Homo sapiens: one gene and its partners. The protein of the gene in region 1 interacts with the protein of each later gene in a pairwise test. Each region holds a gene or a part of one and is shown on either strand. Other genes may lie near its edges.

Region 1 (6,953 bases):
TCTCTCTCTCTCTCTTTTTTTTTTTTCTCACTCTGTCACCCAGGCTGGAGTGCAGTGGATTGATCATCATGGCTCACTGCAGCCTCCAACCTCCCAGGCTCAAGTGATCCTCCCACCTTAGCCTCCTGAGTAGCTGGGACACCAGGTGTGTGCCACCATGCCTGGATAAATTTTAAGATTTTTTACAGAGACGGGGGTCTCATTATGTTGCCCAGGCTGGTCTGGAATTCCTGCCTCAAGCAATCCTCCTGCCTTGGCCTCCCAGAGTGCTGCGATTACAAGCAAGAGCCACTGCACCTGGCCCTGTCCATGCTTTCAATGCCTAGGAATGGAAGTGCTGAGTCATAGGGTAATTCTATGTTTAGCTTTTTGAGGAACTGTCATACTATTTTCCATAGCAGCTGCACCATTTTACATTCCCTCCAGCACATGTGTGGGTTCCTATCTCTCCACATCCTTGTCAGCAATTATAACTGTCTCTTTTTTTTTTTTTTTCTTTTTTTTTTAAGACAGGGTCTCACTCTGTTGCCTAGCCTGGAGTGCAGTGGCATGATCTCGGCTCACTGCAATCTCTGCACTCCAGCCTGGGGACAGAACAAGACCTCATCCTGGGGAGGGGGGGAAAAATGTGGTGGTGGGGATTTAAAAATGTACAATAGGCCAGGCGTGGAGCCTTAAGCCTGTAATCTCTGCACTTTGGGAGGCCGAGGACAACAGATCACGAGGTCAGGAGATCAAGACCATCCTGGCTAACATCGTGAAACCCCGTCTGTACTAAAAATACAAAAACTAGCCGGGTGTGGTAGCAGGCACCTGTAATCCCAGCTACTTAGGAGGCTGAGGCAGGAGAAGCACTTTAACCCGGGAGGCGGAGGTTGCAGTGAGCCGAGATTGCGCCACTGCACTCTAGCCTGGTGACAGAGTAAGACTCCGTATCAAAAAAAAAAAAAAAAAAAGTACAATAGGCTTGGCATGGTGATGCACGCCTGTAATCCCAACACTTTGGGAGCCCGAGGTGGGTAGATCACCTGATGTCAGGAGTTCGAGACCAGCCTGGCCAACATGGTGAAACCCCGTCTCTGCTAAAATACAAAAATTAGCCAGGTGTGGTGGTGGGCGCCTGTAATCTCAGCTACTTGGGAGGCTGAGGCAGGATAATTGCTGGAGGCAGAGGTTGCTGTGAGCCAAGATTGCGCCATTGCACTCCAGCCCAGCCAAGAACAGAGAGACTGTCTCAAAAAAAAAAAAAAAAAAAAAGTACAATAAAGAACGGGCAATAGGGACAGGCATGGTGGCTCATGACTGTCATCTCAGCACTTTGGGAGGCAAAGGTGGGCAGATCGCCTGAGGTCAGGAGTTCAAGACCAGCCTGGCCAACATGGAGAAACCCGTCTCTACTAAAACTACAAAAATTAGCCAGGCATACTGGCGCGCGCCTATAATCCCAGCTACTTGGGAGGCTGAGGTAGGAGAATTGCTTGAACTCAGGAGGCGGAGGTTGTGGTGAGTGGAGATTGCACCACTGCACTCCAGCCTGGGCAACAGAGCCAGACTCCATCTCAAAAAAAAAAAAAAATTAGAAGGCCAGGTGCTGCCAGGCATGGTATCTCACGCCTGTAATCCCAGGATTTTGGGAGGCCGAGGAGGGAGAATAACCTGAGGTCAGGAGTTTGAGGCCAGCCTGGCCAACATGATGAAAACCCGTCTCTACTAAAAATACAAAATTTTTTTTAAATCAAAAAATATAAAAATTAGCCAGGCAGGGTGGCATGAACCTTTAATCCTAGCTACTCGGGAGGCTGAGGCAGAAGAATCGCTTGAACCCGGGAGGCAGAGGTTGCCGTGAGCTGGAGATCACCCCATTGCACTCCAGCCTCGGCAACAAGAGTGAGATTCCGTCTCAAGAAAAAAAAAAAAGAAGGCCAGGCATGGTAGCTCATGCCTGTAATCCCAGCACTTTGGGAGGCCTGAGGTGGGCAGACACTTGAGGTCAGGAGTTTGAGACCAGCCTGGCCAACATGATGAAACCCTATCTCTACCTCAAAATACAAAAATCAGCTGGGCATGGTGGCATGCGCCTGTAGTCCCAGCTACTCAGTAGGCAGAGGTTGCAGTGAACTGAGATTGCGCCACTGCACTCCAGCCTGGGGTGACAGAGTGAGACCATGTCTCAAAAAAAAGAAAGAAGAGTATATATGCATAGCAAACGTGTGAAGAGATGCTCAACATCATATGTCTTTAGGGAAATGCATGTTAAAGCAGGAGATACCACTTCACATCTACTAGAATGTCTAAGATTAAAAAGACTGACCACATCAAGTATTGGTGAGGACGTGGTACAACAGCAACTCTCATATACTGCTGGGGTAGGTGTTAAATAATACAACCATTTTGGAAAATATTTAAGCACTTTCTTTTCTTTTTCTTTTTCTTTTTTTTTTTTTGAGATAGAGTGTCGCTCTTTCGCCCAGGCTGGAGTGCAGTCGTGCAATCTCCACTCACTGCAAGCTCTGCCTCCCAGGTTCATGCCATTCTCCTGCCTCAGCCTCCCGAGTAGCTGGGACTACAGGCACCCACCACCACGCCCGGCTAATTTTTTTCTTTGTATTTTTTAGTAGAGATGGGGTTTCACCGTGTTAGACAGGATGGTCTCGATCTCCTGACCTCATGATCCGCCCTCCTTGGCCTCCCAAAGTGCTGGGATTACAGGCGTGAGCCACCGCGCCTGGCTAGCTGTTTCTTTCTTTTTTTTTTTTTCTCAAGAAAAAGGTGTTAAATAATACAACCATTTCGGAAAATCTTTAAGCAGTTTCTTTTCTTTTCTTTTCTTTTTTTTTTTTTTTTGACAGGGTCTTGCGTTTTTGCCCAGGTTGGAGTGCGGTGGCGCTATTGGAGTGCGGTGGCACTATCTCGGCTCACTGCAAGCTCCGCCTCCCGGGTTCAAGCAATTCTCCTGCCTCAGCTTCCTGAGTAGCTGGGATTACAGTTGTGCGTCACCACACCCGGCTAATTTTTGTATTTTTAGTAGAGACGAGGTTTCACCATGTTGGTTAGGCTGTTCTCAAATTCCTGACCTGGTGATCTGCCCGCTTCAGCCTCCCAAAGTGCTGGGATTACAGGCGTGAGCCACCACGCCCGGCCTACTCAACTAATTTTTACATCTTTTGTAAAGAAGGTAATCTCGAGGAGCTGGGATTACAGGCGCCTGCCACCACGCCCGGCTAATTTTTGCATTTTTGGTAGAGACGGGGTTTCACCGTGTTGGCCAGAGTGGTCTCCAACTCCTGACCTCAAGTGGTCTGCCTGCCTCGTCCTCCCAAAGCACTGGAATTTACAGGGATGAGCCACCGCGCCCGGTCCAGCCTATTTTTCTTAAGATATCATTTGTGTTTTTTTCTTTCTTCCTAACTTACATTTTATAGGGTTTGCTGGTATAGTTTTTATAAAAAAAAAAAAAGTTGGGCCGCGCACGGCGGTTCATGCGAGTCCCTGCTATACAGGCCTTGAGGATTCTGCAGAGACCAAGATAAGCTGGGGGGCCTGAACAGTTTAGCAGGGGAGGCCGAGACTCCTGTAACAATCATGCAGTAGTTAATTACAGGGGGGTGAGTGCAGGGAAGACGACAGGGTGACAGGTATATTGCGTAAGTAGACACTGAGGCCCAGGGAAGCGCAAGGAATAGTCCAGAGACACACAGTCTGCGCTGTCACCGGCGGGTTCTCAAATTTGGCCCGCAGGGTCGGCGGCGCTGGGGCTCCCGGCCCGCGATTGCCACGCCCACCAGACCCGAGGTTGCCCCGCTCAACCCGGCCGGCCGTAGCCGCCAGTACCGTGTGGAAGCGTGAGAGTCGAGGGGTGGCACGTGACTGGCGGGGCGGGGCGGGGCTGAGGCGGTGGAACGCGCAGGCTAGTGGCTGTGTTTCCCGCCGGAGGCTTTTGCGCAGAGCCCCGCGTCCCTGGGGGGCGGCGGCGGCGGCGGCAGCGCAGGCGGCAGAGGCGCAGGCGGCGGAGGCGGCTGGGGGGTCCGGAAGTCAACACCATGTCAAGTCTGCACAAGAGCCGGTAAGGGGCCATGGGGCCTGACCCGGCTGGGCCACTCCTGGCCAGGCTGCCCCTTCTGCCCCTCAGAAGGGGGAAGCGCGGGTGTGGCCAGGAATCGGCAGACCCCCTCGGCAGAGGGTCTCGAGCGTCCACCTTCTAACCTCATTGCCTGTGGGCTGCAGGAACGACGGAGGGGCGGCCCTTCTCCTGCCCCTGATGTCACTGCTTCTGCCTCCCTCATCCTGGACCCCTGGTGTCCCCCTTCCCCTGAGTCTTCCTCATCCAGACCCCCATGCCCCGCCCCCGTGCCTTTCCCCCTTTTGATCCCCCTGCTCCCGTACTCTCTCCAAGTGCACCCTGTCCCCCGTGCCTTTTTCTTACTAGGATTGCTAGAGAACTTGCATTCTCCAGTCTGGCCCCTCCCCCAGGCCAGATCCTGCAGCATTGGCTGAATTTTGCTCACTCTTCAGTTTTCCTTCAGGACGTGTTTTTTAAACCCTTTGTCCTTGCCTTCTGGCAGGCCCAGAGGTCTTGTAATGGTTATATTTGTGAGCATGGTCCATTGTCTGCATATCAAATTACTCCTGGTTCCTGAGGTCCAAGGAGTTCAGTTGGTGGCTGTGCGTGGACCCGGCCTGGCCGGCAGGAAGTGCCCAGTAAATGTCAGCTCACTAAGTATTAGAATGTTGGAATATGTCTAATTTTATGGTCCTCATTTGGGAACTTCTAGACAAGAATATCTCTCAAGTTTCTTCCCTGGCATTCTGTGTTTCTGGTTGTAGAGGAAGAAGTGAAATATAGTTTTGTTGTTCTCCAAAGCTGTCTTTGGTGAGGACCTTGACTAAGCTGTGTGATTTTTATGTCCTAAAGGGGAGAGAGGCACAGGTTGGAAACTGGCAGTGTGAGGGAGCTGAGGGCTGTGGGTCTCACTGAGCCGATATCAGCATGCTTCATTTGCCGCCCTATCTCCCCTTCCAGAATTGCAGATTTCCAGGATGTCCTGAAGGAGCCCTCAATTGCATTGGAAAAGCTGCGGGAACTCAGCTTTAGTGGTAAGAAGCCATTCTGTATTTTCACGGTTTCCCTACAGCAGCCCTGTGGCTAGAATACAGGGGGAGGCCACACCTGGTCAGCTCTGGGGCCCAGCTGCTGGGGGCTGGGGCCTTGGAAGGAAATTACACACAGACTCTTGGGGCCTTTTCCAGATTCTGTAGAGCTGAACAGGCAGTGACTGCCTTGAGCTTGGAGGGGTTTCCCAGAGGGGCAGTGGCCACACTTAGCATGCCCTAAGCTTTCCTAAGCTTTCCGCAGGAGGTGCCAGATTCCTGAGAGTAACAGGACAGGACTGAAGCCTGGAGAATGAGAGTTGGGACCTTTTGAGCCCAGGACAGTCTTTCCTCATTCCTTAGCTAGCTTCCTGTGTTGGTGAGTTTGGTTAACTGCAGGGTTGTTCCTTGTTCTCTCCCTGGCTTGGGGTCTAAGCTGCCTGAACTAAACCTTGGCTAGTGGTAAAATGGGTAGCCTTGGGACACTGACTTTAAGGAGCTGATCCTGCTGTGTTAGACTTTGCCCCAATGAGCACAAAGATAACTCTCTTTTTGCCTGTTTTAAAAAATATCCCAACGTGTTCTGCATAGCTTCTTGTCACTTTTTTGCCCTTGTAACTTTGCCAGCAAGAACTTCTGGCCGGGTGCCGTGGCTCATGCCTGTAATCCCAACATTTTGGGAGGCCAAGGCAGGTGGATCACCTGAGGTCAGGAGTTCGAGAACAGCCTGGCCAACATGGTGAAACCTAGTCTCTACTAAAAATATAAAAAAGTAGCTGGGCTTGGTGGCACTTGCCTGTAATCCCAGCTACTCGGGAGGCTGAGGCAGGAAAATCACTTGAACCTGGGAATTGCAGTGAGCCGAGATTGCGCCATTGCACTCCAGCCTGGGCGACAAGAGTGAAGCTCCATCTCAAAAAAAAAAAAAAAAAAAAGAACTTCTTATATTGTCCCTGTCATCCTCATATAGATTCTGAAGTGGAGGTATTCACTCATGTTCATGGTACCAGGGATACTACAGCAGCAACTGCGGTAGTGAGCTTCCTGATCTTATTGCAGGATAACTTTGTCTTTCTGTTTAGGAGTGAAATATAGGCCCCAAAGGAGAGGCAGTCAGTGTTAGTAGTTAAGAGTTTTACAGATAAGTTTCCTTCTTACGACAATTACGTTAATCTTCCCTACTTACTGGGGTAATAATGAAGATTAAATGAAATAATATCTGTAAAGCACAAAATACTTAGCATTCGTAGCTTAGTTTATATTCCACAAATATGTATGGAATATCTTCTATGTGCAGTGCTCTGTGCTATGCACTGGGAATAATAGATGTGGTTTTTGTCCTTCTGGGGCTTACCCAGTAGTAGGGGTTACAGACGTTAAGAAAATACACCATATATATATATATATATATAATAATTCCACTTATGACAGATGCTATGAAATAGTCACAGAGCCATTATTGCTTATAACAGGGGGAACTGACCTGAATTAGGATGACATGGTGGTGGTAAAGGCTGCTCCTGAGGAAGGAATATCAAGGATGAGAAGGTGTTATCCTCAAAAGAACATTTCAGGCCGGGCATGGTGGCTCACACCTGTAATCTCAGCACTTTGGGAGGCTGAGGCAGGTGGATCACCTGAGGTCAGGAGTTCGAGACCAGCCTGGCCAATATGGTGAAACCCTGTCTCTACTAAAAATACAAAAATTAGCCAGGAGTGGTGGCACACATCTGTAATCCCAGCTACTTGCAAGGCTGAGGCAGAAGAATTAGTTAAACCGGGGAGGCGGAGGTTGCAGTGAGCAGAAATCACGCCATTGCACTCCAGCCTGGGCAACAGAGCAAGACTTTGTCTCCAAAAAAAAA
Region 2 (7,281 bases), on another chromosome or scaffold:
GCCAGGAAGAAATGAATGCGTTGGTATTGCCACGAGAAGAGGCCGGCACGGCTAAAATACGCTATGACCATAGCCAGGAGATACTGATGGAGAGAAGGGAGTAGAGAGAGAGAAAGGTTGGTCACATCCTGGAAGAGGAAGATGGTGGAGAGAAGGGAACAGGGGCTGGGGCGCGGTTGTCTATCACAGAAGGAACCTCAGTGTTGGGTGACTATGCTCATTGGGGGCTTGCGGGTGGAGAGTGTTCAAAGTCAGCTGCAAATCCGGGAAGTCGGAGGGAGGGAGGTCTGTGATGCTCCCATGATGATGAGCTCCAGTGGGATCACTGGAGGGAGAGTGTCTAGGGCTGCTAATGTCAGGAGGGTCTTGGTGAGCTGGGGCAAAGGACTGTCCCAAAGATCTGAGAGGATAGGGGTCAGGAGTTTCAAGACTGGCCCAGGGCCTGGATTCCAAAGGACCCTGTGCAGAGGCAGGGGCCACCCATCAACTATGCAACAGGCTACCAGAGCCCCGAGGGAGATGCTGACAAATTATGAGAAGACCTAGAATAGCTGGGGGCGGTGACTCACGCCTGGAGTCCCAGCTATTGGAGAGGCCGAGGCGGGAGGATCACTTGAGCCCAGGAGGCTGAGGCTGCAGTGAGCTATGATGGCAACACTGCATTCCAGCCTGGGCAACAGAACGAGACCCTGTTTCTGAAAAAATAAAAATCAAAATGTGGGCGCCCAAGAGTATGGAATCAGCAGGTGGGAGATGGTAGAGGGAGAGAGGAGAGAAACTGTGGGTTTAGACGCTGCACCCTTCCCCAGGACGTGTGTTAAAGCAGGAACACAGTTGAGTGGAGAACAACCTTACCTTGTCTGACACCCTCAGGTCTTTGTCCCAGGCCAGGAATTTTTGAACGACAGGATCCCCTGTGAAAAGAGAGCCTGTGTCAGGGTGAGAAGTGGAACAGGGTTGCCGTGGGAGCAGCAGAGCAGAGAGGAGAACTGTGTCCCTCTGGGGGAAGTCTCAGGATTGTGGCCAAGGCTTAGGTGGATGGGAGAGGAGAGAAGGACTTTCACTGGGCAAGGAGGGAGGCTCCCGCTCTGAGATTCCCCTGAGGAGAGGCCGAAGGAGGCCTCTGGTGTCAGAGTCTACAGGATGAAGAGCTGTGAATAAGCCATGATGTCCTCCCATCAGACAGGAAGGGACCACTGCAGAAGTCATAATAGAATTCCCATCATTGCTTCCTGAGATAGTCACAGCTGGGTGTGCCCATGGCCTTGTTATCCCCCTCCACGGATGGAGACACTTAGGTTTAGAAAAGTCATCAAGAGACATAGAGTTTCAGAGGGTACAGCTGAAACCAAGCTTTCTTTTATCTTTTATTTTATTTTATTTTATTTATTTTATGACAGGGTCTTTCCTTGTCAACCAGGCTGGAGTGCAGTGGTGCAATCATAGCTCATTGCAACTTCAAACTCCTGAGTTCAAGAGATCCTCCCGCCTCAGCCTCCCAAAGCACCAAGATCTCAGGCATGAGCCACTGCACCTGGCCAGAAACCAAGCTTTCTTATTTCAAGTGCAGACCTTTATTAAGACTAGCCTAATCCTCTATCTCCTAAGCATCCTCCTCCTGCATGGAGCGCTCATCCCCCAGGAGGGCATATTCTTCTTATTGGGAAAGTGTGATTATTGAAAGATTCCACTTTTTTAAAAGAACAGGGTTGGAGGTGCTTTTTGGGGTATCCTCCTACCAAGGAGCCTGTTGAAGGCCTCGTGGTGCTCAGGGAGCACGGAGGATGCTCGCTTTCGCTTCAGCTTCATCTTGAGCCCACACAGCGTCTCCACCACCCAGGTGTCCTCGGGCTCAGGGGCGCGCTCCAACTCCAGCTCCTCCTCCAGCTCCTCCTCGGATTCGTCTGACCATTCGCTCTTCCTTTTCAGGCCAAGGGATTGAGGCTGGGGGCTGGGATCTATCCAAGGGGCTGAGTGAAGAAACCAGGCCATGGTGTCATGTTTCTGCCATTGATCACCTTAGACGCCCCGACCCAGGAACCTCAAACTACTCTTCCATCCTCCCAAGCCTCGCAGACTGTCAGCTTCTCCAAGCCATGTTTCCACCTTTCTCCTTTGCTGATCCCCATCTGCCTCTCCCTCACCTCCCCATTCTTCCGGCTCTCTGTCCTCAAAACATTTCCTCATCACAGATAAGAACTTTCAATTGGAGAAAAATGGAAACCTTCCCTTGAGCTCTGTCTGCTCTCTCTCTCTCTCTCTCTTTTTTTTTTTTTTGAGATGGAGTCTCCCTCTTGTTGCCCAGACCGGAGTGCAGTGGCACAATCTTGGTTCACTGCAACCTCCGCCTCCTGGGTTCAAATGATTCTCCTGCCTCAGCCTCTTGAGTAGCTGGGACTACAGGCACGCACCACCATGCCCAACTCACTTTTGTATTTTTGGTAGAGACAGGGTTTCATCGTGTTAACCAGGATGGTCTCGATCTTCTGACCTCGTGATCCGTCCGCCTCGGCCTTCCTCTCTCATCTTTTGAGCACATCTCCTGACCCCCTTCATTGCTCCCCAGACTTTCTTTACACGTGGCCATGCTTGGCCCCATTCCCTGCACCCTCCTTCCCCGATCCCTGGCTTCCTGAGTCCGTCGTTTCTTTCCCACACACCCTACTCAGGTGCTTCAGATTCCCAGTAACTGGCCCCCTTCCCTCTCCTCAGTCAATCATCTCCCATCGCTTCTCCCTCCAGTCACCTCACCTGATGGTCCTGGCACTTCATCATCCACCACCACCTCGGGGGACCGTACCGTTGTGCTAGGCTGGGGGCTCTCCTCCTCAAACGGGGGGCGCGCTTGACCACTGGCCATAATCTCTCCCAAACACTTTGTTTCTGTCCACAAAACCTAGTCCCTGTTCTGTCCAAAGCCTTCTTCCAGACTCCGTTAGGACCCAGAAGAGTGCGTTTCTCTTCTAGAGGCTCGGGAGAAGTTAGGAGTGAAGAGTAGTTCTGAGAAGTTGCTGTTGTCCACCTGAACTCCCAAGCAACCAGAGTCCGGTCCTTCCAATCAGGAAAGTCGGAATCTCTGATGTCATCGGTCATTCCAAACTGGCAACTACTTTGAAGAAAAACACATGTAACTGCCAGACTGATCTCTTTTCTTGGAGATCCGGGGTGAACGGTATCTCCTGGCAATGTCCCAACCTCTGAGCATTGTCCAAAAGCATCCTCAGGGTCTCCACATTCCTCTTTTCCCTGTCCCAGCAGAGGCTGTGTCCTCTCCACTCTAAACTTGAGGGGGTGTTGGGCTCTCCTCCCCGCTTCTCCTTCCCATTTCAGAGTCTAGTCTGGTGAGAGAGGGAGGAAGGTGGAAGGAAATTTAGGGTAAGCAGAATGATGAGTCCTTCCAAGAGTGAGATTAACATATACAGGAGATCCTGGGTAAATTGACTTGTTGAATGGAGACGTTACGTCGAAGTACTCAATGTGGCAAAGCTTTTTTGCTGAATGTTTACTGATATTCACTATCCTGGATCCTATAGTAGGGGAACATGCATCCTTTGCTCTCAGGCATCTTTGAGTCCAAGAGACATTTTGAGGAATGAAAATCACAGGAGACTGTCCATGGTTTCGTACAGATTTTCAATGGTGTCCACAAGTTCAGGGCATCCATGGATCACCTAAAGCCTGCCCTCCAGTTCAGCTAAGGAACTCTGGTCTATATATCAACTATTACAACATATCTATTTCACTTGACCCCAAAATTTGCCTACTATTTATGTATTTTATGAATAAAATATCCTGTGTATAAAAAGACTAAGGGGAAAATCTCAGCCAGGCCCAGGGGCTCCTGCTCATAATCTCCCTCCTTTGGGAGGCCAAGGCAGGGCGTCACTTGAGGTTAGGAGTTCAAGATTAGTCTGGGCAACATAGCAAAACGTCATCTCTACAAAATATAAACAAAGTAATCAGGAATCGTGGCACACACCTGTGGTCCCAGTACTTGGGAGGCTGAGGCAGGAGGATTGCTTCAGCCCAAGTGTTTGAGGCTGCAGTGAGCTATGATTGCACCACTGCACACCAGCCTGGAGGACAGAGTGAGACTCAGTCTCAAAAATATTTTTTTCGGAAAAAATAAAAATGTAAGAGCTGGATACTATCTCAGATACCATCCAAAGAACCTGTGAGTTCTGGCACAGCTTCCTAATGGGCTCCTAGGAGTCTCTCGCTGATGGGAAAGGCACAACTGAATGAGGAGGCAGATCCCGTCGCTGTGGAAGTCCAATTGTTAGGAAACTCTGCTTACATTGAGTGGACCTTCGCATTCACGATGCTTTCAACCATCAGAACTGGTTGGATCCTTTTACAACAAAACAGAAAATCATCTTTCTCTCCTATTTAATAGGCTTTCAAACATTAGAAGATCAATATTCTGTTGCCATTAAAATTTCTCTTCTGTACCACGTAAAGTTCTGATTAATCACTCTTCAAGCCAGTTTTACATATTCCTCTGTCTTCTAGGCACCTTCTGTAGACAGGCTACAATAAGGCAGCCATCTTAAATTATGTCAATACATTGTCCAAAAATGAGCTAAACAGTTCAGGTTTCATCTGATATGTTCAGGGAAAAGCAAAACTATCACTTCTCCCCTTCTCTTTTCCTTCAGTGATGCAGGTTAATACAACAATGGCTGTAGCTATGCACCAAAGATATCATTAGAGTGAAACAGAAGGGCTTTATTGGCTGGCATGGTGGCTCCTGCCTGTCATCCCTACACTTTGGGAGGCCAAGGCTGGAGAATCACTTGAACCCAGGAGTTGGAGATGAGTCTGAGTAACGTTGTGAGACTCCGTCTCTCCAAAAAAATTTAAAATTAGCCTGGTGTGGTGGCACACACCTGTAGTCCCAGCTAGTTCGGAGGCTGAGTTTGGAGGAGAAGAAGTGCTTTGCAAATACCAGCCTTTCAGCCTAAGGATCTCAACTAGGAACATTAAGATACAGATGCCAGGACCCAGCCCCACAGATTCTAATTCCAAAGGACTGAGGTGGGGGCTGATTTAACTTCATCATTGGAGTCCATTCAGATTTGGAACTCTCTGGGTGGGGCAGCGCAATAGAGATCCCAAAGAAAGCAAAATCACTCTCGAATGAAATGAGCAGGAAAGATTTTTTGAGCGAGGTAAGTAAGACCTGGGCCTCACATGGGAGGGCTGTCACCAGGCTTTGTATCCTTGGCTTAGTGGGAACTTTTGAAGCAGCCTCCAAGGCCCCTGTATGCTGGTCGACAAGCCCCCTAACATTGGCTCACAACTGTAATTCCAGCACTTTGGGAGGCCAAGGCAGGAGGATTGCTTGAGCGCAGCAGTGCAAGACCAGCCTGGGCAACTTGGCGAAACCCTGTCTCCACCAAAGTATAAAAAACTAGCCTGGGTGTGGTGGCGCATGCCTGTACTGCCAGCTACTCAGGAGGTTGAAGTGGGAGGATCATTTGAGCCTGGGAGGCGAAGGCTGCAGTGAGGCGAGTTAACGCCACTGCACTCAAGCCTGGGTGACAGAGTGAGACTGCATCTCAATTAAAAGAAGAAACACTAAAAATTTTCACTGAGAATATAAAAGAACTGAATAGAGACTTACAAAATGTCTAAATGATGTTTCAATATGGTAAAACTGTACATTCAATCCAAATGAATTTAGGAATTTAATGCGATTGCAATCAGAATCTCAAAGAGTTTTTCCCCCCGCAGATGTTGACAGAACAATGTAAAAGTTTATCTAGAGAATTGAGTACTTAAGGAACCATCACAAAAGAAGAATGAGAGGGAATGTCCACTGCCAGACACCAAAATGTGTTCTAAGGTGAAAGTGTTAAAACAGCATGTTGCTAGTGTCACTCCGGCAAAATCCTCAAGTGCTCTAAGAGCTTGGGCAAGTATCTTGCTCTAAGATAGCCCTGACTTTGTGAGCTGCCTAAAGGCATGAAAATCCACAATTTTCAAAGACACTTCTGACCAAAACCAAAACAAGACCAAACACAAATCTGGATCTGGAGGCCTGAAACGGGTTACAGGGTCCCAGTTTATGATCCTTGATACAATCAAGAGAATAGAAAGTTCAGAATAAACCCAAGTTTCTATAGGAATGCATTAAATGCTGTCATGGCATATCCCAGTGGGGAAAGTAGAGATTAAGCCACAAATCATGCGATCACAACTAGCTCATTATTTGGAAAACAGACATATACAAATCAAATTCCAGGTGGATTTATTTAAATGGGAAATTAAATGTTCAATGTGAAAATTCATTCTGTAGCAGGATATCCAATGGAAAGGATACTTTTCTGTTTTTTGCCACTGGTGAGAGAGCTGCCAGAACACAGCCTTCATCCTCAGAAGTCACAAGGCTCACACATCATATCTGAGCCTCTGAAGACTTTACCAGTCTAATTCACAAGTTTAAATTCCAACCCAAAATGTAGAGTCTTCATTTCCCTGCTCCTCAGTGCTGTGAACTGAATCTGTGCCCCCAAAATTCATATGTTGAAACCCTATATTAGTCCGTTTTCACGCTGCTGATAAACACATACCCAAGACTAGGAAGAGAAAGAGGTTTAAATTGGACCCACAGTTCCACATGCCTGGGGAGGTTTCAGAATCATGGCAGGAGGTGAAAGGCACTTCTTACGTGGCGGCGGCAAGAGAAAATGAAAGGGAAGCAAAAGCGGAAACCCCTGATAAACCCTTCAGATCTCCTGAGACTTATTCACTATCAGGAGAATAGCATGGGAAAGACCGGCCCCCACGACTCAGTTACCTCCCCCTGGGTCCCTCCCATGACATGTGGGAATTTTGTGAGATACAATTCAAGTTGAGATTAGAATGGGAACACAGAAAAACCATATCAAACCGTAATCTCCAACGTAATGGTACTTGGATATTCAGCCTTTGGGAGGTAATTAGCTCCTAAGGGTGGTGTCCTCACGATGGGTTTAGTGCCCTCTCTCTTAGAAAAGAAAGAGCTTGCTTTCTCTCTCTTTGCTGTCTGCCATGTGAGGGAGCAATAGGATGACAGCCATCTGCAAACCAGCAAGCTGAACTTCAGCAGACACTGCCTCTCCAGGCACCCTGATCTTGGACTTCCCAGCCTCCAGAACTGTGAGAAAGAAATGTTTAAGATTCCCAGTCTATGGTAATTTGTTAGAGCAGCCCAGACTGACTAAGACACTCACCAATATAGTATGTTATCAATCTCTTAAACTTTTGCCAGTCTGATAGGTGAACTTATACATCTGT
Region 3 (7,257 bases), on another chromosome or scaffold:
AAACTTGGCCTAAGGAGACCATGGGACTAAACCTGTAGTCTCTCCTCACTTACATCTGCATGGTTCAGGCCCTCTCCTCCATATACACCATCACGTCTTCAAAACAAGTAGCCTCTAAATAAAAGTGTGTTTCTGCCATATCTAGGGTATATCTATAAATACCATGTGCTACCTGGACATTTTCTGTTCCAATCTAGTGGCACAGTGCATGCCTGCCTCTGCAAGCCCATTGACACCGTTTCTAACTGTCTTTTTTCATTTGGAAATATCAGTGGTCACCTGCTCAGCCACCAGTTACCGCAAAGGGAGAACATACCCCACGTTCCCTATACTTGATCCTATCTCAGTGATCCCGTTGCAATCAGGCATGACAAAGCTAAAATGTGACAAAGTGAAAGGAAATCTGTAAATCATGGTCTTACTCACGTAAAGGCATCAGGAGAGAGTTTTTTGCAATGCTCATTACGTTAGAGTGCAAACATCCTCATCTCCTTCTCCACTGAGGGTGAATAATCACTGTTTATCTGTGTACAGGCAAAGCCAGGGCATGGGATTATGGGGATACGGCCTTGCTTCAGACCACAGACATTCTGCATCCACATAACCTCACCCACGTGTGACTTCTTGAGAGGCAAAGCTTCAAGTCATCCCTTTAACATAATGTGTGACAGAGCTCACTATCTTCCCTAGAGCCCCCCCCAACACCTTAGCTCTTGTCTATTTCTAGTCACTAGAAACAACACTGTATTTCAAGGATACAACCCCTCCCCAATCAAACTGCCAAATCTTTGAACTGAGACTCAGTGCCATATATATATTTTTGAGGACCATGCTTCCTGGATTTTCTAGCAAGGTTGATTTCAAATATTCTGACTTACAAATCACTAAAATAATATTGAGGTTAAAATAAGATCACCACATAGATATATAACTTTATTCACTGTTTGACATCACTGCCCTCAATACTACAAAGATATCAAAACAGGGGTAGCTTTCTGGACCACTGACTACTACAGTGTGTGTTCTATCCATTGCAGGAAAGTCCCACCATGCCAGTGAAAGCTGTAATACACATTTATCTATTCTCTAATGTCTGAAAATGTCACACCAACTGCCTTATAGACCAGATAGTTTATATAAGAACATTATTAGTGTCAATGCTGACTTACACTCTACAATCTCATCTGTGGTCCTGGTGGCATACACACAGATAACATTAGTGTGAGTGACGTGTTTGTGTATTAACACAGACCTTGAGGGTGACTTTGTTCCAGTCTACCTTGCAGGCACTATAAGTGATCGGCTCCTGCTTACTCCACAGACACTGTGAGTGACCCAGCCCCTGTCTACACTAGAGCTGTTGGTCACCTGTTTGTCTACACCACTGACACTTGAGTAATGCTGCTCCCGTTGAACCCAAGACCCTACGAGTGACTCCATTCCTGTCCATACCACATAGCGACTGACCTCTCCAGACACCACAAATGACGTATTCCTGTCTATCCCACAGACACCACGTGTAACGTGGCCACGGAACCTCAGACAGACCGCGTTAAGGGCACTGATACACTCTCAGGACCTCTAATATATGAACACTCTTCTCTCTATTGAGAATCACTATATTCTGTTGATGAGAGGGATTCCTTTGCACTCCTCCTGATTTCTCTCTCCTCCCCACTAGGACCATGACATACATTCCTCCTGCATATCAGTCTCACCCAGAACTGACACGCCCTCATCCCATCTTCCCAGCTCCCCAGGACTCCTTCACTAGCCATGGCTTCACTTTTAGGCCCACAGATTGGTTAACAAATGACACCCATTTTGCTAAGGCCTATGCCAGGAACTTCTTCATGCTCCAAATGTGGATAAAACAAGACGTCTGAGACAGAGGCCACATCAAGAGCTTTTTAGCTGGAGCTGGGACCTCTGGATTAGGCCCAAGATGCAAGGCCAGACAGTGGAGTGCAGTAGGGGAGCAAGCTAGGGAGGAAGCTCGAAAGGAAAACCACCCTCTCTCATCTGTTTGACACACCCTTCTCTCTCAACCAGACAAGAGTCCTGGCCAGAGTTCACTTCTAGGTAGACAGGAGGGCAAATCTGTCTTTGGAACCCAAGATCCAGGAAGGGAAGAAAGGGACTGAGATCTGGAAATGACGTAGTATCACAACTGGCTCTCCTCCGGTAGTCTTGCCGGAAGGCAACTGCAAAAGATGCTCAGGGGTTCTAGAGCTCTGCGTCCGCATTCTAGCACCCCAACGCCTACCTCAGCCCCCAACTCTAAATAACTTCTTTCCACCTTGCTAAGAATGCAACGTTGTGATTCACATCAAGCTTTAGGAGGCTCCCCATATGTAGGGAACTGGGGTGAGGGGCAGGGCAGGATTCACTGTTCCAGGTTACGGAGCTTTGGTTAACACGGAGAGAAGCTACACATAGACTCACACAGTATGCAAATACCTATGGAGATACATAAGGAAAGGCCCCGGCCTGGTTAAGGAAAAGGAGCCGATAAAACCTCTCCAGGTAAGGAACAGCCTAGAAAGGGAATCTCAGTTATTCCTTCTGATATGGCTTAGCTTTCCCCAGGGCGCCTACTTTGAAGAAAGAGCCCTGATTATTGGCCCGGGGAACGTCTGGGGGCAGGGTGCCCATTTCCTAGGCGGGACCCGACCGGAAGCAAACTTGTAGGCAACAACATTTCCTCTAGTTCCTCTCCTCTTCCCCACCAGGGTCCTCAGCCACACACCCCGAGCCCTGCCTGCGGGCCCAGCCCCCCCATTTCCGGAGCCTGCGCCCCGGACCCAGCGGGGGCTGATCCCTGGGAAAGGCCTGGCTTCCTCTTCCTTCCTGTCCCTGCCCCACCTCCGCCGGGCTCCACAGCCGCCGGGAGCCCAGGGCCGAGACGGGAGGAGGGCACCCACCTGGTCGGTGTCACATGCTGCTTCGGCCCCAGCGTCCCCTCCAGGTCCCGGCGCCGGCCGCAGTCCCCAGAGCCGTCCCCAGCGCAGGCCCGGCCGCCCCACCCGCGGCCCGCCCCTGGCCGCCCGACGGGAGGGAGGGATCGGGTTCTCCTAGGAAGTTTCAGGTGAGGAAACAGGGACACACCTTCCCGGAGGAGGGGCAGGGCCCCTCCGCGCGCGAGCCCCATTGGTGTGAAAGAAGCTCCCGCGTCAGAGCTGGGAAGTGCCGGGCCGGCGGGGAGGGGAGCCCGGGCGCACGGGCCAGGCCGCGGGCTGTCCCAGGGAGCCCCGAGGGCGCGGTGCGCGGGCGCAGGTCGGGCGCAGGCGGGGTGACCCGGGGAAGGGGCGCGCACAGAGACAGAGGGAGCCAGCCGGGCCCCACGGTGTCCTCGGACGCCTCCGAAATCTCCCTGCGTGTTTGTTTCTTCGGAGCTTCACCGGAGCCTGACTCTGGAACCGGCCTGTCTGCCTGCTGCAGTCTGTATGTGTTTGTCTTTTGCCTTGGCCGTGCCTCTGGAAGTCTGACATCCGTGGTTGTACATGTGTCTTTATCTTCAGGCCTCATTGGTTTTTGGTTTGTTCGTTGTTGTTGTTGTTGTTGTTGATGTTGTTGTTGTTGTTGTTGTTGTTGTTGTTTCTGAGACGGAGTCTCGCCCTGTTGCCCAGGCTGGAGTGCAATGGCGCGATCTCGGCTCACTGCAACCTCCGTCTCCGGGTTCAAGAGATTCTCCTGCCTCAGCCTCCCGAGTAGCTGGGATTACAGGTCCGCGCCACCATGCCCGGCTAATTTTTGTATTTTTTAGTAGAGGCCGGGTTTCGCCATGTTGGCCAGGCTGGTCTGGAAACTCCTGACCTCAGGTGATGCACCCGCCTCGGCCTCCCAAAGTGCTGGGATTACAGGCGTGAGCCACCGCGCCCGGCCAAGGCCTCAGTGTTGATTTCTCTTCCGTGATGTCTCCTCCTATAGAATAAAGAGTGTCTCCTCCATCTCCTCCTCCGCCCCCTTCTTCGTTTCTCTCTCTCTCTCCCTCCCTCCTCCCCCCTCCCTGTCCCTCTCCCTGCCTCTTCCTCTCCCCTCTTCCTTCTCCTACTTAGGGCCTAGAAGTGTGCCTCTCTGAAAGGACATGCCCGTGTCCTTCTGTATTCCCGAGTTTATTTTAGAATGAGTGCGTATCTCAGGGTGTATGTTCCTTCTAGGGCCTGTGTGTGTGTGTGTGTGTGTGTGTGTGTGTGTGTATTTAAATCTCTAAGCCCATGTTTGTGTGTTTTCTTATGCCTGTATTTTTTTTTTTATTCTTTCAGGGAAACGTTGTGTTCTGTTAGTCTTGGAGGCCAAGGCTGAGTGGGTTTATCTCTGTGCCCCTCCAGTGACTTCAAAGAATGCCAAAAGTCTCTCGAGTGTGCCTGTGTGCACACACAGACACACACAAAGTAGGAATCCTTTACCTGGGGGACAGAGATTTCTGTTATTTTTGGTTGAATCTGACCACTCCCCAAAGCCATTCACTACTCCAGGGGTTTCCATGGTGACATAAGTCAAGTGAAATATTAATGGACTCCTTGCCTATTTTGCTCTTAGGAATGCCATGGTCTACAGCCCAAACAGCTTGGCTAGACCATTTCCAGATCACTGTGCCCATTGGCTGTTGCCAATGATCCTGGTTGAACGTGTTCACTAGTTATTTTGAGGTGGCTGTAGAATAGAATGTAATTAAGGAAGTATAGCCTCTTCTGTAATAGAGTCCTGAACAGCTTTATGTTAAAAAAGTGTGCTACTTCTGCCATGTTACTCTGAAGGATTAAGTCTTAAACAGTTCAGCAGTTTTCAGCCTACTCTAAGCTGCCATGGAGTGTATGGGAAACTATAGGAAAAATTGGGATTAAGACTCAAAAATCTGGATTAAGAAGGGCAGGCCTTGCATGTGTCCTAGGCTCAGCAAAAGGGTAAGAACTGGGAGTACAGAAAGGCAAAAAGTTCAAACTGGGACTGGCTCTACTTCTAGGCTGGAATACAAAACTCATTCCCAGGTATGAGAGGGTCCTTGATTTATACCGAGTGAGCAAAGTGAGTAAACTTCTGATCTAGGGCAGAAGCTGTTGACCTCTGGGTCGGGTGCGGTGACTCACAACTGTAATCCCAGCACATTGGGAGGCCTTGGCCGGTGGATCACCTGAGTTCAGGAATTTGAGGCCAGCCTGGCCAAACATGGCGAAACCCCTTCTCTACTGAAAATACAAAAATTAGCTGGGCTTGGTGGTGGGCACGTATTCCCAGCTACTTGGGAGGCTGAGGCAGGAGAATTGCTTGAACCCAGGAGGCAGAGGCTGCAGTGAGCTGAGATTGCACCACTGCACTCCAGCCTGGGTGACAGAGTGAGACTCTGTCTAAAAAATACAAAAAAAAAAAAAATTGTTGACCTCTGGCATATTTCATGCTGCCTACTGGGGGTGGGCAATGGGGTCAGAGGTACCAGAACTGCCTCCTGAACCAGCCTGGCTATTCTTTCTGCTTCCCTCCAGCTTCAGTTGGTTCTCCTTGATTACAGCGCTCTCTCTCTCTCTCTCTCTCTCTCTCTCTCTTTTCTCATCAACTCGACCTCCTCTTGTTCTGCCAGCTCTGACTTGTCAGCATATTTTTTTTTGAAGTCACAACCCTGGATTCTTGTGCGCTTGTCCAGAGAGTTAGCACACAAGGCTTTTCCTGACTTTTCAACTAGTAGGAAAGTTACAACCGACCATTTAGGGAGTTTGCTCTTCCCATCAAGACTGTTCCTGTCTGCAGGGTGTATTTGCATGTGGAGGTCACTCTAGCTCTCCCAGGTATTCTTCCTTTCACTTTGCAGACTATGGTTCTCAGCATTTTATTATTTTTTTTCTTTTTCATTTCTTACTGCGTGGTCTTGGTGACTGGGTTTCTTAATCAAGCCTGTCATCCCATCCTGAGATTTTGATATTTTATTTGGGCCTATATTTCCTCTATAAAGGCCTAGAGAGGAGAGAGAATGATGCCATGGAAAGAGAATGAGATTTAGATTCAGACAGGGGTAAATTTGAATCCTGCATTCCATTTACTTAATGTGAAATCTTGGGCATATTCACCTTCCTGTGCTTTCTCTGAATCTTCCTACGTTTCATTTCCCTAATGTCTTAATTGGGGATAATAATATGTAATGATACCTACGTCACTGGATTGTTGTGGTGATTCAATACTGTAATATATAGAAATCACCTTAGTATAAGTACCTGATGTGTAAAGGTGGCCAAGATGGGTTAGTTTCCTTTCCTAGCAGTGCCTGTCAGTGATGCATGTGGAATGAATATGTTTATAAGAACAAAGTGATAGGGGCTGGGAACAGTAAATAGATTCAAAATAAAGCTATTTTAAAATGAAAGCCCTATTAGACGAGGCTGAATAAAAATAGCTTCTAGAACTTGGGACTACTTTAATTGACAATAATGCCTTTAAGATCAAGTTATGGGGCTTGGGGAGAGGCAGGGAACAATCTTGTATAGTTCTAGGTATCAGGACTAAAGGAATGACAATGACCTTTTTTGAAGCAGGAACTCATCAGCATTATCCCTAGGGCTGTCATTGTCCTGACTAGATACTGTCATGGTGCCACCATCCCACATGACTGGCTGCATTGTTCCCACGTGGTGAACTCTCTCTGACTCTCAGCTGGTCCAGTGCTAGTTCTTGGAACACTCCTAAGGCCTTTCTGCCTCTGCTTTTTGCCTGATCCTGTGACCCAACATTGAACCTTTCGAACTGATTTTGAACTCAGTTCTTCTTTTTTTTGAGATGGAGTCTCGCTCTGTCGCCAGGCTGGAGTGCAATGGCGTGATCTCGGCTCATGGCTACCTCTGCCTCCTGGGTTCAAGCGTTTCTCCTGCCTCAGCCTCCTGAGTAGCTGGGATGACAGGCATGTGCTGCCACACCCGGCTAATTTTTGTATGTTTAGTAGAGATGGGGTTTCACCATATTGGTCAGGCTGGTCTCGAACTCCTGACCTCATGATCTGCCTGCCTCGGCCTCCCAAAGTGCTGGGATTATAGGCATGAGCCACCGTTCCTGGCCCCAGTTCTTCTGTTAATGGGGCTGACCGTGGTCTCTCCATTCATCTCTGTTGAAGCCAGGCTGGCTTGACCACTGTGGTTCTTAGCTATCTTCTTCTATTCTGTTTTTTTGTTTTATTTTATTTTATTTTATTTTTCAGAGATGGAGTCTTGCTCTGTCCAGCCCAGGCTGGAGTGCAGTGGCACGATCTAGGCTCACTGCAACCTCTGCCTCCTA

The links.
Region 2: the proteins of TBC1D13 (region 1) and SPDYE4 interact in binary tests that used the Homo sapiens proteins (3 or more experiments, as listed by UniProt).
Region 3: the proteins of TBC1D13 (region 1) and ARHGEF5 interact in binary tests that used the Homo sapiens proteins (3 or more experiments, as listed by UniProt).

The regions. Positions count from the first base shown.
Region 1 is NC_000009.12:128,783,314-128,790,266, forward strand, and holds the start of TBC1D13 (TBC1 domain family member 13), read left to right. Parts: upstream 1-3,939; 5' UTR 3,940-4,040; coding exon 4,041-4,063; intron 4,064-5,020; coding exon 5,021-5,094; intron 5,095-6,953. UniProt on the Homo sapiens protein: Acts as a GTPase-activating protein for RAB35. Together with RAB35 may be involved in regulation of insulin-induced glucose transporter SLC2A4/GLUT4 translocation to the plasma membrane in adipocytes.
Region 2 is NC_000017.11:8,755,523-8,762,803, forward strand, and holds the start of SPDYE4 (speedy protein E4), read right to left. Parts: upstream 3,025-7,281; 5' UTR 2,861-3,024; coding exon 2,752-2,860; intron 1,971-2,751; coding exon 1,740-1,970; intron 915-1,739; coding exon 856-914; intron 84-855; coding exon 1-83.
Region 3 is NC_000007.14:144,351,169-144,358,425, reverse strand, and holds the start of ARHGEF5 (rho guanine nucleotide exchange factor 5), read right to left. Parts: upstream 3,025-7,257; 5' UTR 2,925-3,024; exon of another isoform or gene 2,708-2,924; intron 1-2,707. UniProt on the Homo sapiens protein: Guanine nucleotide exchange factor which activates Rho GTPases. Strongly activates RHOA. Also strongly activates RHOB, weakly activates RHOC and RHOG and shows no effect on RHOD, RHOV, RHOQ or RAC1.